Homo sapiens: one gene and its partner. The protein of the gene in region 1 interacts with the protein of each later gene in a pairwise test. Each region holds a gene or a part of one and is shown in the gene's direction. Other genes may lie near its edges.

What was found. Proteins that work in one complex are often made in the same cells at the same time.
Region 2: the proteins of PIP4P2 (region 1) and ZFYVE27 interact in binary tests that used the Homo sapiens proteins (3 or more experiments, as listed by UniProt).

What each region holds. Positions count from the first base shown.
Region 1 is NC_000008.11:90,992,585-90,997,411, reverse strand, and holds the end of PIP4P2 (type 2 phosphatidylinositol 4,5-bisphosphate 4-phosphatase), read left to right. Parts: intron 1-667; coding exon 668-758; intron 759-1,591; coding exon 1,592-1,735; 3' UTR 1,736-3,610; downstream 3,611-4,827. UniProt on the Homo sapiens protein: Catalyzes the hydrolysis of phosphatidylinositol-4,5-bisphosphate (PtdIns-4,5-P2) to phosphatidylinositol-4-phosphate (PtdIns-4-P).
Region 2 is NC_000010.11:97,745,996-97,755,264, forward strand, and holds part of ZFYVE27 (protrudin), read left to right. Parts: intron 1-2,273; coding exon 2,274-2,369; intron 2,370-3,478; coding exon 3,479-3,591; intron 3,592-4,335; coding exon 4,336-4,475; intron 4,476-5,380; coding exon of another isoform or gene 5,381-5,395; coding exon 5,396-5,467; intron 5,468-6,861; coding exon 6,862-6,882; intron 6,883-7,042; coding exon 7,043-7,187; intron 7,188-8,731; coding exon of another isoform or gene 8,732-8,757; exon of another isoform or gene 8,758-9,269. UniProt on the Homo sapiens protein: Key regulator of RAB11-dependent vesicular trafficking during neurite extension through polarized membrane transport. Promotes axonal elongation and contributes to the establishment of neuronal cell polarity.

The sequences.
Region 1 (4,827 bases):
AATGCTTTTAAATGATACTTTGTTGGCATTATGTATAATAATGAAGATACTTTAATGTACAATAGTAGAAAATTTTTTAATTATGTTATATTCATCCATCAGAATTTTAGTTTGAGAATATTATGGGAAAAAGTTCATGCTATATATTGGTAAGGTACAAAATTGGCTACAGGAAAGTATGCAAAAATACTGAGTGACTATTTTATGATATTGGGATTATAGGTAATTTTTTCTTTCCTTTTTCTTCATTGTTTCTTTCCTTTTTATTCTACTTTCTAAATTTTTTACATAAACACATACTCTTTTAACTGTAAAAAAATCAAATGCTATTTGTAAGATAGCTGTTTTTCCATTCTGAAATAGATTTTTTTGGAAATAAACTTTTATCTTGGGAGATTAGTAGGTACTACAATGGATTTCTGTGGATATTATCAATGACCAAGGCTTGAACTTTGTTTAAAGCCACAATAATATCACAAATTCACCCTGAACGATTTTGTCACCCATTAAAAATGACATGTTTAATGCATGTTCTTGTCTGTAAAGTTGAAGCAATGAATAAAAAGTATATAATATTACTAAAGCCATAGATAAGAACTCACAAAAATGAAATAGAGAATTTTTATGTAAATACTTAATGTTCTCTTTTGCTTTCATGAATTTGCAGCTCCTCAGTGGGTAGTGCACTTCCACGAAGACGCTGCTGTGCATATATTACCATTGGAATGATATGTATTTTCATTGGAGTTGGGTTAACTGTGAGTGTTACACTTTGATGTTAGAATTCTGTCCTCTCAACTTTATCAGTAGTCAATCATGAGGCCTGGGACAACCTTCAGGGATTCCTGAAGAGGCTGCCTCCTTGGCATGCCAGCACTAGAAGCTTCTGAATGATTATGAGCAATCAGAAACCCAATCCATGGACCTCTTTTTGATTGAACTCGCCCATCCAAGTGAAACGGTGTCTTTTTACCTCCAAAAGTCCTTACTGTTGGGGATTTTATCATCTATTTAGCAAAAGCCCATTTAAAAAAAAATCAGTGCCAGAACTAATTTTTATGGCTATGGGGTCTCTTATTATTCAAAGCAATATTCATTCAGCTACAGAGATCTAAAAAAACCACTCTTCTCTTTATCCAAATCAAGCAGAGATTTATTACCAATATGAGGATGGCTTGTTTTTAGAGAAGACTGGAGCTAAGCAGTTAGCATGGGGATTATGCCAGAAGAGGAAGATAATCTCTTTGGCTGCCATTTCCATGCTCCTTTGTTTGTCAGTACAACTAGTCCCTTATTATTAGCAATGTCCTATTGTGTCCCATGATAGTAAGAAGTTACATGGATTAAATTCCTTGTAGAGATAATATAGTTTAGTGTGCTTTTTTGTTTACTTCATAACATTTATAGTTACTACAAGTAGCAGTATGGTCTATCAGTTGCAGTCAACAGATACACCTACTCTTATAAGGACTTTGTGTATTCGGTCTGGGGGTATATTTCATAACAATCACATGTAAGCTGATACAAGTTCCCTAAGCAGATATTTTTTAAAGTTTCTAATATTTTGTTTTTATATTGCTTTTTATTTTAGGTTGGCACCCCAGATTTTGCAAGGCGATTTCGAGCAACCTATGTTTCTTGGGCAATTGCTTATCTCCTAGGATTGATCTGCCTTATCCGAGCTTGTTATTGGGGAGCCATAAGAGTCAGTTATCCAGAACACAGTTTTGCATAAGCTTGTTTATGATTCAGTAATGCAGGTGAGAGTGTCTAGCAGTTCTTGGTAAGCTACTCTGGACATCTTTAAATTATTTATCCTAATGGATTCCATTCTGGTTTATGTATAATCGTTTCAAGACTTTGGGAGTCTTTTATGAACAAATGCTCATTGCACTATATTATATGCAAATTGTTTTGCTGCTAGGTTTTCAAAATTTGAATAATAAAGCCTTTTCATGTTCTTTTACATCTCTTATAGATATTTTTGGATTTGTTACCAAACATTACATTTACTCTCACCCTTTTATTATTTTTAAATAAGTTATTTCATTACTTGCTGATACATGAGTATTCCTAAGTGTTTATAAATATTTCTATAATAGTTTCACATTTATATTTACATTTTAATTAAACAGTATCAAAATTGCTTGCTTAAAACCTAAGCAATATGCATTTTGCTTGAACTGCTTACTGTAACTTTAACCTAAGATTATAGTGACCTTATTCAGGAAAAAAAAAAAAATTTAGTGTAACTTCAAAGACTTGACATTCTTGTCAGAGGAAAAAAAATTTCTAGATACTGTTTGCTTGTTTTTTGTTGTTTGTAGAAAGATAAAATATTTTGGTAGTAATTTAAAATACAAGAACGAATATTTATTTGTCCACAGTTGGAGATGTTGGATAAATGTCTTTTCTCAAAGATCACAGGACTTTTGTCTTTCATTTTTGCCTTTTTATTTACCATTTATAAAAGATCTGGTCTGGATTATGGAATTTAATGTTTATCAGCTCTATGTATTCCTTTATAGAGGCTTGAGGAAGTATTTCACATAACATGTTTTATAATACTTAACCATTTATCCAAAGATATATTTACATTGGGTTGTGCCCCTTTCCCTTAGATCATGGTAAATTTTTCTTATTGAGGTAATTATGTACTACTTATATTTGAAGGAAGCTTATGACATTTTACAGTAGCTAAAATGTTGAGATTAGAGGTACTTTTACTATTCTTCTCAAAGGTAACTGATCAGATAATTACCCAAATTATTCAAGAAAATAGATCAGAAATAAAGAACAACATAATTTTCTAAGAATTCATTGAAATTTATGGAATCAGCTCTCGCACTGCCCATCTTTGCAGTTTTGAAAAAGAAATTGCTTAATCACAAATGTTCTACAGTCTTTAAATGTAGTAGAATTAGACAGTGAGATCATCTGAGTAAATTGATTGGTGATTCCAGAGATAAGACTAATATTTTAAATTATTTATGATACTGATTAGTATAAAAACGTACTCATCACAGAATTTGAAGCAAAATACATGTACACTTCAAAGAGTAAATGACAAATGTATAAATGCTGTAGCTCAGGATTATATGTACCTTTAAAAATACACTAATAAAGATTATTGTTCAAAAATTACCTTGTTTTATTCCATTAAAAATAATGTCACTTCCAGAGTTGCCTTGAAATCTTGCTGTAAAGTTTTCATGTTTAGGAATGTACCTGTTTCTTTATATAATATTCATTTATGTTTTTTGTACTATTTTCAAATGGTTTTATTTTTAAAATATAGTTTTTAAATCCATTTGTAATACACTTGATGTTAGGTATAAAATAATCTTACTTCTTTTCCTAATGGTTAACTAGTTGTAACAGCATTGTATACTGAATAATCCATTCTTTCCCTCATTGATTGGAAAGCTCACATTAAATTATATGCTATGTCATATTCCTTCTGGAATAATAACTTTATGAGAGCAAGAACCCTGGTAGTCTTGTTCACAGCTTTATCCCCACTTAGAACAGTTCTTAGTGTACATGTGCTCAATTTACGTGAATGAATATGCATGAATGAATAAATGGTTGAATGAATTGCTATTTTAAATTCTTATATACACTTGAATATGTACTTTATATTTTGTACCAGAATGTATAGGTAAGTATTTGTATAACCTTGGGTTAAGAAAAAAACGTTCTAAGTAGAACTTAAAAGAAGAAATTATATAGGAAAGGATTGATACAATGAAACAACAACAACAAAATCCCCAAAATACTTCTGTATGATAAAAACCCTTAAGCAAAGCCAAAAGACAAACTGGTGAAGCTATTTTCAAAATAGGAGAAAGACTGTAATATCAGAAGGGACTAACGGTATGAAAAAGCAATTCACAAAATGACTACAATAGGTCATAAACTGTTTTTCGATTTTTCTTTTTTTTTAGACAGGGTCTCACTCTGTCACTTAGTCTGGAGTGCAGTGGTGTGATCTCGGCTCACTGCAGCTTCCACTCCCCTGGCTCAAGCCATCCTCCCACCTCAGCCTTCCAAGTAGCTGGGATCACAGCATGCGCCACTATGCTGGGCTTTTTTTTTTTTTTTTTTTTTTGGATTTTTTGTAGAGATGGGGTTTCGCTATGTTGCCTAGGCTGGTCTGGAACTCCTAAGCTCAAGCGATATGCCCAGCTCGCCCCCCGAAAGTGCTGGGATTACAGGTGTGAGTCACCGCACCCAGATCCCAATTTTCTAATATTTGAAGAATGTAAGTTAAAACAAAGAGATACTATTTTTCACTTACCATATTAACAAAGAAGTAGAAATTACAATAATACCCCTGTAATGCTGAGGACATTGGAAACACACACACACACACGCACACACACACACCACATATTCTTTGATCTAGTAATTCTCTAAGAATTTATCCTAAAGGTATTGTCAATTTTCTAATAAAGAGTAAAAATATAGTCCAATAATCCAATAACATGAGATTGATGAAATAAATTATGGCACACCTATACAATGAAATAGCAGACAATCAAGAATATGACAAAAAATTTCATCTATTGAATTGGAAATGGCTCGCAAATTGTGTGATACATAGAATATGATCCACATTTTAGAAAATGTATTTTATGTGTACATACTGAAAAAAACTAAGGAAAATAAACCAAAAATATTAGGAGTGGTTATCTCTGGGTGAAGAGAGAGAAATTATTTTTACTTTATTTTTGAACTAGATTGTTGGAAAGTAGGTTTTACTCTTGATGAATAGATAATAGTAGTATATGATGATTACATCAATATTTGTTAATTTTCATTTTG
Region 2 (9,269 bases), on another chromosome or scaffold:
CTTACTTTGAAATAGTTTTATATATATATACACATATATATATATATATATATATATTTTTTTTTTTTTTTGAGACAGAGTCTTGTTATGTAACCCAGGCTGAAATGCAGTGGCGTGATCTCGGCTCACTGCAACCTCTGCCTCCTGTGTTCAGGCGATTCTCGTGCCTCAGCCTCCAGAGTAGCTGGGATTACAGGCATGTGCCACCATGTCCAGCTAATTTTTGTATTTTTAGTAGAGATGAGGTTTCATCATGTTGGCCAGGCTGGTCTCGAACTTCAGCCTCAGGTGATCTGCCTGCCTTGGCCTCCCAAAGTGCTGGGATTGCAGGCATGAGCCACCGCACCCAGCCTGAAATAGTTTTAAACTTAAAGAAGTACAGGAATAATACCAAGAATGCCTTTTACCCAGATAGAACAATTATTAACATTTTGCCATGTTGGCTTCGTCTATCTCTCTACATATACATATTCTTTTCTTTTTCCTAAACCATTTGAAAGTAAGTTGCAAACGTGACTTAATACTTCAGCGTGTATTTCCTAAGAACAAGGACATTCTCTTAAATATCCACAGAGCTGTAATCAAAATTAGGAAACTTAACGTTGATAACTAATGTATAATTCGTAATCGGATTTTACCAGTTGTATTAATAAAGTTCTTTTTCTTCTTTTATTAATTTTTTTCCTTTTTTCTTTTTTTTTTTTTACTTTTTGAGACGGAGTTTTGCTCTGTCATCCAGGCTGGAATGCAGTGGCATGATCATGGCTCACTGCAGCCTCAACCTCCTGGACTCAAGTGATCCTTCTGCCTCAGCCTCCTGAGTAGCTGGGACCACAGGCACATGCACCATACCCTGCTAATTAAAACAATTTTTTTGTAGAGATAGGGTCTCATTGTCTTGCCCAGGCTGGCCTTGAATTCCTGGGCTCTAGCAATCCTCCTGCTTCAGCCTCCCAAAGTGCTGGGACTACAGGTGTGAGCCAGTGTGGGTGTCCTAATAAAGTTCTTTGTATCAGTTTCCCTGATCTGGGATCCAATTCAGGATTATACATCATGTTTAATTTTTTTATGTCTCTTTAGTCTTCTTTAATCTGGAGCAGTTCCTCAGTCCTTGTTTCTTGTGACCTTGACATTTTTGAATAGTACAAGCTTATTATTTTGTAGAATCTCCCTAATTTTTGGATTGTTTGGTTCCTTGTGATCAGATTTAGAGTGTGACAAGTGATGTGTCATGTTCAGTACATCCGTATCAGGAGGCACCTGATGTCAGGAAATACTGACTTTGATCACTTGGTTAAGGCATCCATACTGTAAATTATCATTTTACTCTTCATTAGTAGTAATTTGAGGGGAGATACTTTGAGACTATGTAAATATCTTGTTCCTCATCAAACATTTATCCACTGCTTTAAAAATCCATTGATGGGTCTTGCCTTAATCAGTTTATTACTATGATGGTTGCAAAGATGATCTTCTAATTATTCTATCGACATTTTTTTAGCTGGCTTTCTACTATAAGGAAGCTCTTTCTTACTATTATCAGTATGAACTCATAGATTTATATTTTATTTGATGAGTTAGAATCTATTACTATCATTATTTATTTTGATCTCAAATTGTCCTAGATTTGGCCAGTAGGAGCTCTTTTGAGTTGGCTCTTGTTTGCATTGGTCCCTGTCATTTTTGAATGCTTCCTTTATGGTACAACAGGATGGTCAAATTCATCTTATACTTCCCTGCCCCAGCCCTGGAATCAGCTTATCTCCATGTTTCCTGGTTTCCCTTCAGAAACCCAGATCTGGGTTCAGATTGTGCTCATGGCTTCTGTGGTTCATCCATGTTTAAAAAAACAACAACCAGAACTCCCCAAGTGAGTCTGTTTCACATCCCAGGTAGAGAATATCATGCCATTTATTCTGACAGCTGCTGTGTACCCGTGAGGTGGGTCCTCTGATCCTCATTTTATAGATAAAGAAGCCACAGCCCTGGAGAATTTCAGTAGCCTGCCTGACATCAACAGTTAGAAGACCAAAGCAGGAACATTTATACTGTTTCCACCTCAGCAAGAGGCTCCAAAAAGGGGACTGAAATGTAGCTGGGGTGGCTTAGCCAGGCCTGTTTCTCCCATGCTCTCTCGACTCCTCTCTCTTTAAGCACATGGTGAGTGTGTTTAAAGAGATTGACCATCCCTAGCCAACTGTACCTGCAAGGCCCCAGGCTCCACTTCCCAGGGCTTCTGTCCTGCCCACTCACCAAAGCCCCTGTGTCTGTAGCTTGATCCAGCTGGAGGCCTTCCTGAGCCGCCTGTGCTGCACATGTGAAGCCGCCTACCGCGTGCTGCACTGGGAGAACCCCGTCGTGTCCTCACAGTGAGTGACCCCTCCTCTCCCGCCACCACCCTATAGGAATTTGCAGCTTGAGCCCGAGCAAAGCCAGCTGCCTTGAGAGGACCTCTGCCCCTCTTACCTCAGGGGAAGAGCTCGCCTCCTGGGCTCTTGTGTGTATATCTGCACATATGCTTGCGGGCTCTAATGTACTGCTTTTGTTTAGATGCTTGCTTTTATGTGTGGTAAAAATAATAATAGAAAAATAACTCACCATATAATCCACCATGCAGCCGAATCTCTTGTTTGTTTTGCCTGCTAGAATTTGTCACATGCATCTACTTTACGGATGTATAGTTTCATAGTGTATGTTCAATTTTTCTTTTGTTTTCCACTTATCATTATATTAAAGATGATTTTCTTTGTTGCTATATAGCTTTTGGAATTATTTATAATACCAGATTAATATAGATGGCAAATATAATTTGTGAAACCATTCTGTTACAGATTTAGTCAATTTCCCTTTTCATTACTAACCCCATGGTAAACATTTTTATGGATTTAGCTTTAATGTTTTAGAAAATTTTTCTTGGAGTAAATTCAAGGATGAAACTACCATATCAAACAGAATGGGTGTTTTTGAGGCTCTTTAATATGAATAATAGTGATAACTAATGTTTGTTGTGTTCACCTGGTGCCAGGCACTGCTCAACACTCCCTCTGTATTATCTCACTCTTATAGTAACTCTATTAGGTAGGCGCTACTTCAGTCCCCATCTTACACGGGAAGGGAGCTGTGCCCAGAGAACCAAGAGACTTCTCAGAATGAGAAGTGGCAGAGCTGGATTCAAATCCCAGTCTGTCTTACTCTAGACTTCAGAGTCTAGACCTTAAGGAGTGATGATGGTTGAACCAGTTTATGTGCCACCAGCTGACACCACTTTGGCCTCACCAGCATCAGGTGTTTGCACCGGTGACTTGGGATAGTTCTCAGTCTTCATCGCCATTTTCCGCTGGTTTGATGAGCGGCTCTTGTCAGTTTATTAATGTGCCCAGAGCTGTGTCTCACCTGGACCCTGCTGTGGGTGTGCTCCAAACCCGTCTCCTTCTGCTGTTACGAATTTCTGATCTTGTGGTTCTTCCCTGTCATCCAGGTTCTATGGGGCTCTTCTGGGCACAGTCTGCATGCTGTATTTGCTGCCACTCTGCTGGGTTCTCACCCTTTTAAACAGCACGCTCTTTCTGGGGAATGTGGAGTTCTTCCGAGGTAAGCCCTGAAGGGCCTGAAAGATGGGGCCCAAGCTGGCTCTGAGGGCTAGGCTAGGCTCCCCAGTTCTTCTGTCTCTACAGCTAATCATCAGTTTGCTGTGCTTCCACAAGTGCAACACCACACTGGGGTCCTCTCTCATGGGCTCTGCATCTCTGAGATGTTAGATGAAGCTGGAATCTCACCAGGGGAGGCTGCTACCATTGGGCTCCCATCTCCCTTCGCTCCCTTCCCAAGGCAGATGAATCACTGCTTATATGATATGATGGCTTCTGGAAGATGAGGGAAGGATGTTTTTCCCAAAGCTGCCACCCATCCCCTGGGGTGCAGCCACCTGGAGTTGCTACCACATCTCTGTGTGATCCCAGAATACCCCTCTGTTGTCTGGCTTCTAAAGCGCTGAGGCAGTCTGGAGAGGCACTGAGTCGCAGAGGCCCGAGTCTGTACATATGTTTGGGTGATTGCTGTATTTGTTTTCCTCCCTGTGGTAGAGTTATTTATTACAGAAGCCATGATTTATTGAGCATTTACTACATTTAATCTCTGTAGCTGTCTGGGGCAGGTGGTGGTATCTAAGTTTTGTTTAAGAGGCTTAAGTTAGGTGACTCGCTCAGAGTTAGGAGGGTGACTCTTTCCTGTAGTGAAGGGAAGAGAGGCCAGCCAGCTGCAGAAGTGGGTACCCCTAAAGTGCCACTCACGGTGTCTCATTTTTGCCTCCTACCTTGTTCTCCATTCCCTGGGTAGTTGTGTCTGAGTACAGGGCATCTCTGCAGCAGAGGATGAACCCAAAGCAGGAAGAGCATGCCTTTGAGAGTCCTCCACCACCAGATGTTGGGGGGAAGGATGGTCTGATGGACAGCACGCCTGCCCTCACACCCACGGAGGTAAGTGCCACTGTCAGGGCAGAGCCTGCTGTGGCCGCTTGTGGGCCCCCCTGTTATCAGCTTGTTTTTGGCTCCTGGGCTGGCCTCTGTTGTAGTTCCTGCTATTTCCCAGGCCTTAACTCCCCTGAAGTGTTCAATAATAATAATTGTAATAAAAACAGCTACTCCATGCTTCACTGAGTGCTTACCCTGTGTCAGATGCTGCTCCAAGTGCTTTATAGATAGATATTCACATCATGGAGTGCAGGTTCTTTCTTTCCTTTTCTTTTTTTTTTTTCCTTTTTTTTTGAGATAAGGCCTCCCTCTGTCACCCAGGCTAGAGGGCAGTGGGGCAATCACAGCTCACTACAACCTCCATCTCCTGGGCTCAGGCAGTCCTCCCACCTCAGCCTCTTGGGTAGCTGGGACTGCAGGCAGGTGCCACCACGCCCAGCTAATTTTTTTGTATTTTTAGTAAAGATGAGGTTTTGCCATGTTGCCCAGGCTGGTCTCAAACTCCTGGGCTCAAGTGATGTGCCTGCCTCGGCCTCCCAAAGTGCTGGGATTACAGGCGTGAGCCACTGCACCAGGCTGGTTATTTCTGAGAAAGAGATCATTCTCATTTGTGGAAGAGAAGGCTGAGGCACAGAGTGGCTGGTAAGTGGCAGGGCTGGGTCTAAGACCCCAGCCCTGTGGTTCTAGAGCTCGTGCCTTCAACCACTGTGCGATGTGGCCACTGTAGGGCCAGCTGTGCTCGTGTTTCCATCTCCCCCGCCCTGCCAGGCTAGAGGTTGCTCCTTCCTGTGAGTTCCTTCTTTCTTGCCATTGTGCCATTTCGTGGTGTTTTGGGTAGCCTGGATGCTGGCTTGGGGAGGTGGTCCTCTGCCTTAGGGAGCAGCGCTGCCATCCTTCTCCTTCTGTCATAGAGTCTCTCTTCCCAGGACCTCACACCGGGCAGCGTGGAGGAGGCTGAGGAGGCTGAGCCAGATGAAGAGTTTAAAGATGCGATTGAGGTGGGTGGCCCTTCCCCAGCATCCTCTACTCAGCAGGCCAGAAATTGGGTGGTCCTGGAGCTGTTTTTTGTTTTTGTTTTTTAATGTCCAAGTGAGAAGCTAAAACTTGCTGTGAGCTAGAACTCACTGGTTGAAAGAGTGCCACTGAACCCCTCCCCACTCCTGTTTCTGGTTGAGCCAGCTGTCCTGGGTGCCCAGGGCAAGAGTGGCTCTGGAAGTCTCCGGGTAATGCCCTGCTAGGGGAGCTGGACGATTTCTGGCCTTTGCTGGAGACCGTGGGCTTGGTGCCTTTGATATAGGAAAGGCAGCTTTTGAGGAGGCTACTGCCCTGGGTCTCCGCTCTTCTGCAGAGTGAGTTCCGTAAGATGTCCCTTTGCGGGGCTGGGAGGGGAGGTTGGAGAAAGTAGTTGCATGGCCAAGTGCTAGGTCAGAGGAAGTTAAACAGCTTTCTTGATTTTAGGATGGTAATTCAAATTGGTAGTTTGCAGAAGTGTTTTATTTGGCATGCAAAGTTTCAAAATAATTTTTTGAGCCAATGTTTAAATATGGAGAGATTTTTATTAGAACTGCAGGTTTCCAGTTTCTCTGGTAGTCCTGAGTCTGCAGCAGTAGGTGTAGCTAAGGAGCTGCTGTCCCCTTTACGCAGGTCACATGCTGTGGCTACAGGTGGTCCTCAACACCCCCTGCTGTATTTTGTCACTGAGGTCAAGTGGGAGTTGCCATTTGTCACATTTGCGTTTTTGTTTTTCTTAGAGTAGGATATCATTTCTCTTTATTTATTTCTCTTTGTAAAGTGGGAAATTGAGATATAAGAAAAACACCTCGTGGATTTCCACCAGGCCTGTGATTTACCCCAACTCACCTCAATCATACATCAGCCCAGGCCATGCAGGCATTTGACTTTCTGATGGCTAAAAGATTGCTCCAAAACTTTGATATATGATTGTAGACCGTGAATCTTGGTGGAGGGAATATGTAGAGCAGGGGTTTTCAAGCATTTTTGTTCATGACCCATAGTAAGGAACACATTTTGCATCTTGACCCAGGTCACACTTAGGTCTATAAAATATGTAAAACTTAAGTGAAACAAAAGTTTCCGGAAAATACGTTGTAAGGGATATTTTCTTTCCTTTTCTGTTCTATTCAAATAAAGACCTACTAAATTATTTTCACCCAGTTTGAGAAACTGTAGTACCTAGCTTTCTCCAAGGCTGTTTGATGCTGGGATCCTCTTGTGGGGGGCGTCTGTCAATGTCACCATTTGGGAAGTGCGCAGAGCTCAGAGCAGCGCTTCCATGCTTCCTTCTGCTTGGGGGCCCCTCCAGGTAGCTTCTTTCTTCTTGCTATCTTTTTCTTTCTGTTTTCTCTCCTCTTCCCCGCACCTTGGGAGGCAGGAGACCCACTTGGTGGTGCTGGTAAGTGGAAGCCTTGGTGGGTGGGCAGGGGCTGGGCTGGGGAGGGTGGCTGAACCGGCTGCTGCCACACCTCGTGGGGGCTGCCGCGCAGGATGCCTCTGCACACGGGTCCTGCAGCCTTGCAAGAGGTGGGCAGGACTGGAAGGAGCTGTTCCCACAGGAGGATGATGAGGGCGCCCCGTGCCCAGCAGAGGATGAGCTGGCCCTGCAGGACAACGGGTTCCTGAGCAAGAATGAGGTGCTGCGCAGCAAGGTGTCTCGGCTCACGGAGCGGCTCCGCAAGCGCTACCCCACCAACAACTTCGGTGCGGCCAGGGGACAGGGCTGGGCTGGTGGGGGAGTGGGGGTGGACTTCTGGGACTCTAGTGGGGAACACCCAGCCACAGGGGCAGAGTCTCAGAACTGTGGGTACTGACTTGTGACAAGAGCAGGGAGTGAAGGTGTGTCCGCGGGACCCCGGGGAGCTAGCAGATGCCCGGCAGGACTGCTGAGGGAGTGGGTGTGGGTTCCTTCTTGTCCCTCCATCCTGATTGGACATTCAGTTGTGGGAAGACAAGGAACTCAGTTTGGGAAATGCCATCCCAGGACTGTAGAGAACCATAATCCTGACAGAACTTCAGAAGGCAGTGTAGCATGATGGTGAGGAACAGAGTAGAGTCTCACTGCCTGCTGCAAATCCCAGCTCAGCCAGGTGTCCTTGAGCAAATTATTTCACACCCCGTGCCTCAGTTTCCCCTTCTGTAAAAGGGGGATCATCATTCTTACCTCATAGGGTTGTTACAGGTCTCATGTCAAATGAGACAGTAGTACTTACGAAGGGCTAGCACAGTGCTGGTTGGTTCATAGTAAGTAGTGGGTGCGGTTAATGTGGGAGGCCCTGACCCACGCTGTGGGTTCCTAGGATCCTGTCTTGGTCTTTCTTATCCAGCTGGAAGCAAGTTGAAGCAAACATTGTTTCTCTGGACGTGATAGAGCCCTGAGTTCACCTCTCCCCAGCCAGTCCTTATTTTACTGAGGGTCGGGGGAGAGCGGTCAAGGAAGGCAGCTTTGGAGAAGGGTGGACTTGACAGCACAGCTTAGAGACCTGGCTCAGATCAGCAGCGCTGAGAGCTGAGCCACATACAATTATGGTGGAAACCTAGAGTAGCTAGGTTGACCTGGGAGCTGCTGTGCTCCTGAGGAAGGGCCCTCCTGCCTGCTGTCAGATGGGAGCAGGGTAAGGGGGCAGTACTGTGTGTTCTGGTGTTGAGTGAGTTCTAGGGTCTGTGCCCTGGAAGAAGACAATGGAGTTTATCTTGAGGAATTTGACTCAGGGCCCCCAGGGTCCTGCCTTCCTACCCCTGCAGCAGCCAGGGCAGTTGTTTTCTCAGGATTAGATGTCCTGGACAGGCTCTTTCTTTCTGCTGTGTGAATGTCCCCCAGTTATTCAAGATCCCTTTTTTTTTTTTTTTTTGAGACAAGGTCTCACTGTGTCTCCCAGGCTGGAGTGCAGTGGCATGATCACAGCTCACTGCATCCTCGACTTCCTGGGCTCAAGTGATCCTCACAGCTCAGCCTCCCGAGTAGCTGGGACTACAGGCATGTAGCACCATGCCTGGCTAATTTTTGAATTTTTTTTGTAGAGACAGGGTCTTACTTTGTTCCTCAGGCTGGTCTTGAACTCTTGGGTTTAAGTGATTCTTGTACCTTGGTCTTCCAAAGTGTTAGGATTACAAGTGTGAGCCACCACGCCCGGCCCCTTTGTTTTATTTATGCTGCCTGCTGACTTCTGCAGGGCATTCTGTATGTTCAGTGATCTGTTTACCCTCCATACTTGCACATGTGTGATCTCATTTCATCCTTACCGTAGGTGTGACAGGAGCAGGCAGTTCTTAAGGGTTCAGAGCAGCCAGATTCCAGCAGTGCCCGGTAACACTACACACAAGAAGTATTACTCTGGTCCAGCAAATAATTTGTCTATTTCTACAACTTCTAAGTAAAGGTACTTAGCTGTTCCCATTTTACAGATGAATAACCTGAGGTAAAAAGAGTGCTTTGCCCAGAGACTTTGGCCTGGAAATGGTGGAGCTGTGACTCAAATTCAGGTTGTCTGATTCGGCTCTTGTCTTCTTTCTACCTCTTCATCCTCCCTCTCTGTTTTCCCTTTGCCCTTGCGTGTGAAGTCCCTTGTTTTATGCCTGTCCCGCTTTTGTATTTGATTTTTGGTTTGGATAATCTCTACCAGCATGGGCAGAGGCCTTTTCAGCCTCCCTCAAGGATGGCAAGGGCAGAAAGTGCTTCTTTTCCTAAACTCCTCTTAGTTCCTCATCCTTCAAGACCACTTGCTACTTTCCCTTTTCTGAGATGTTCCCAAGCTCTTTGCCATGAGGGCAGGTGTAGCAGCTCTG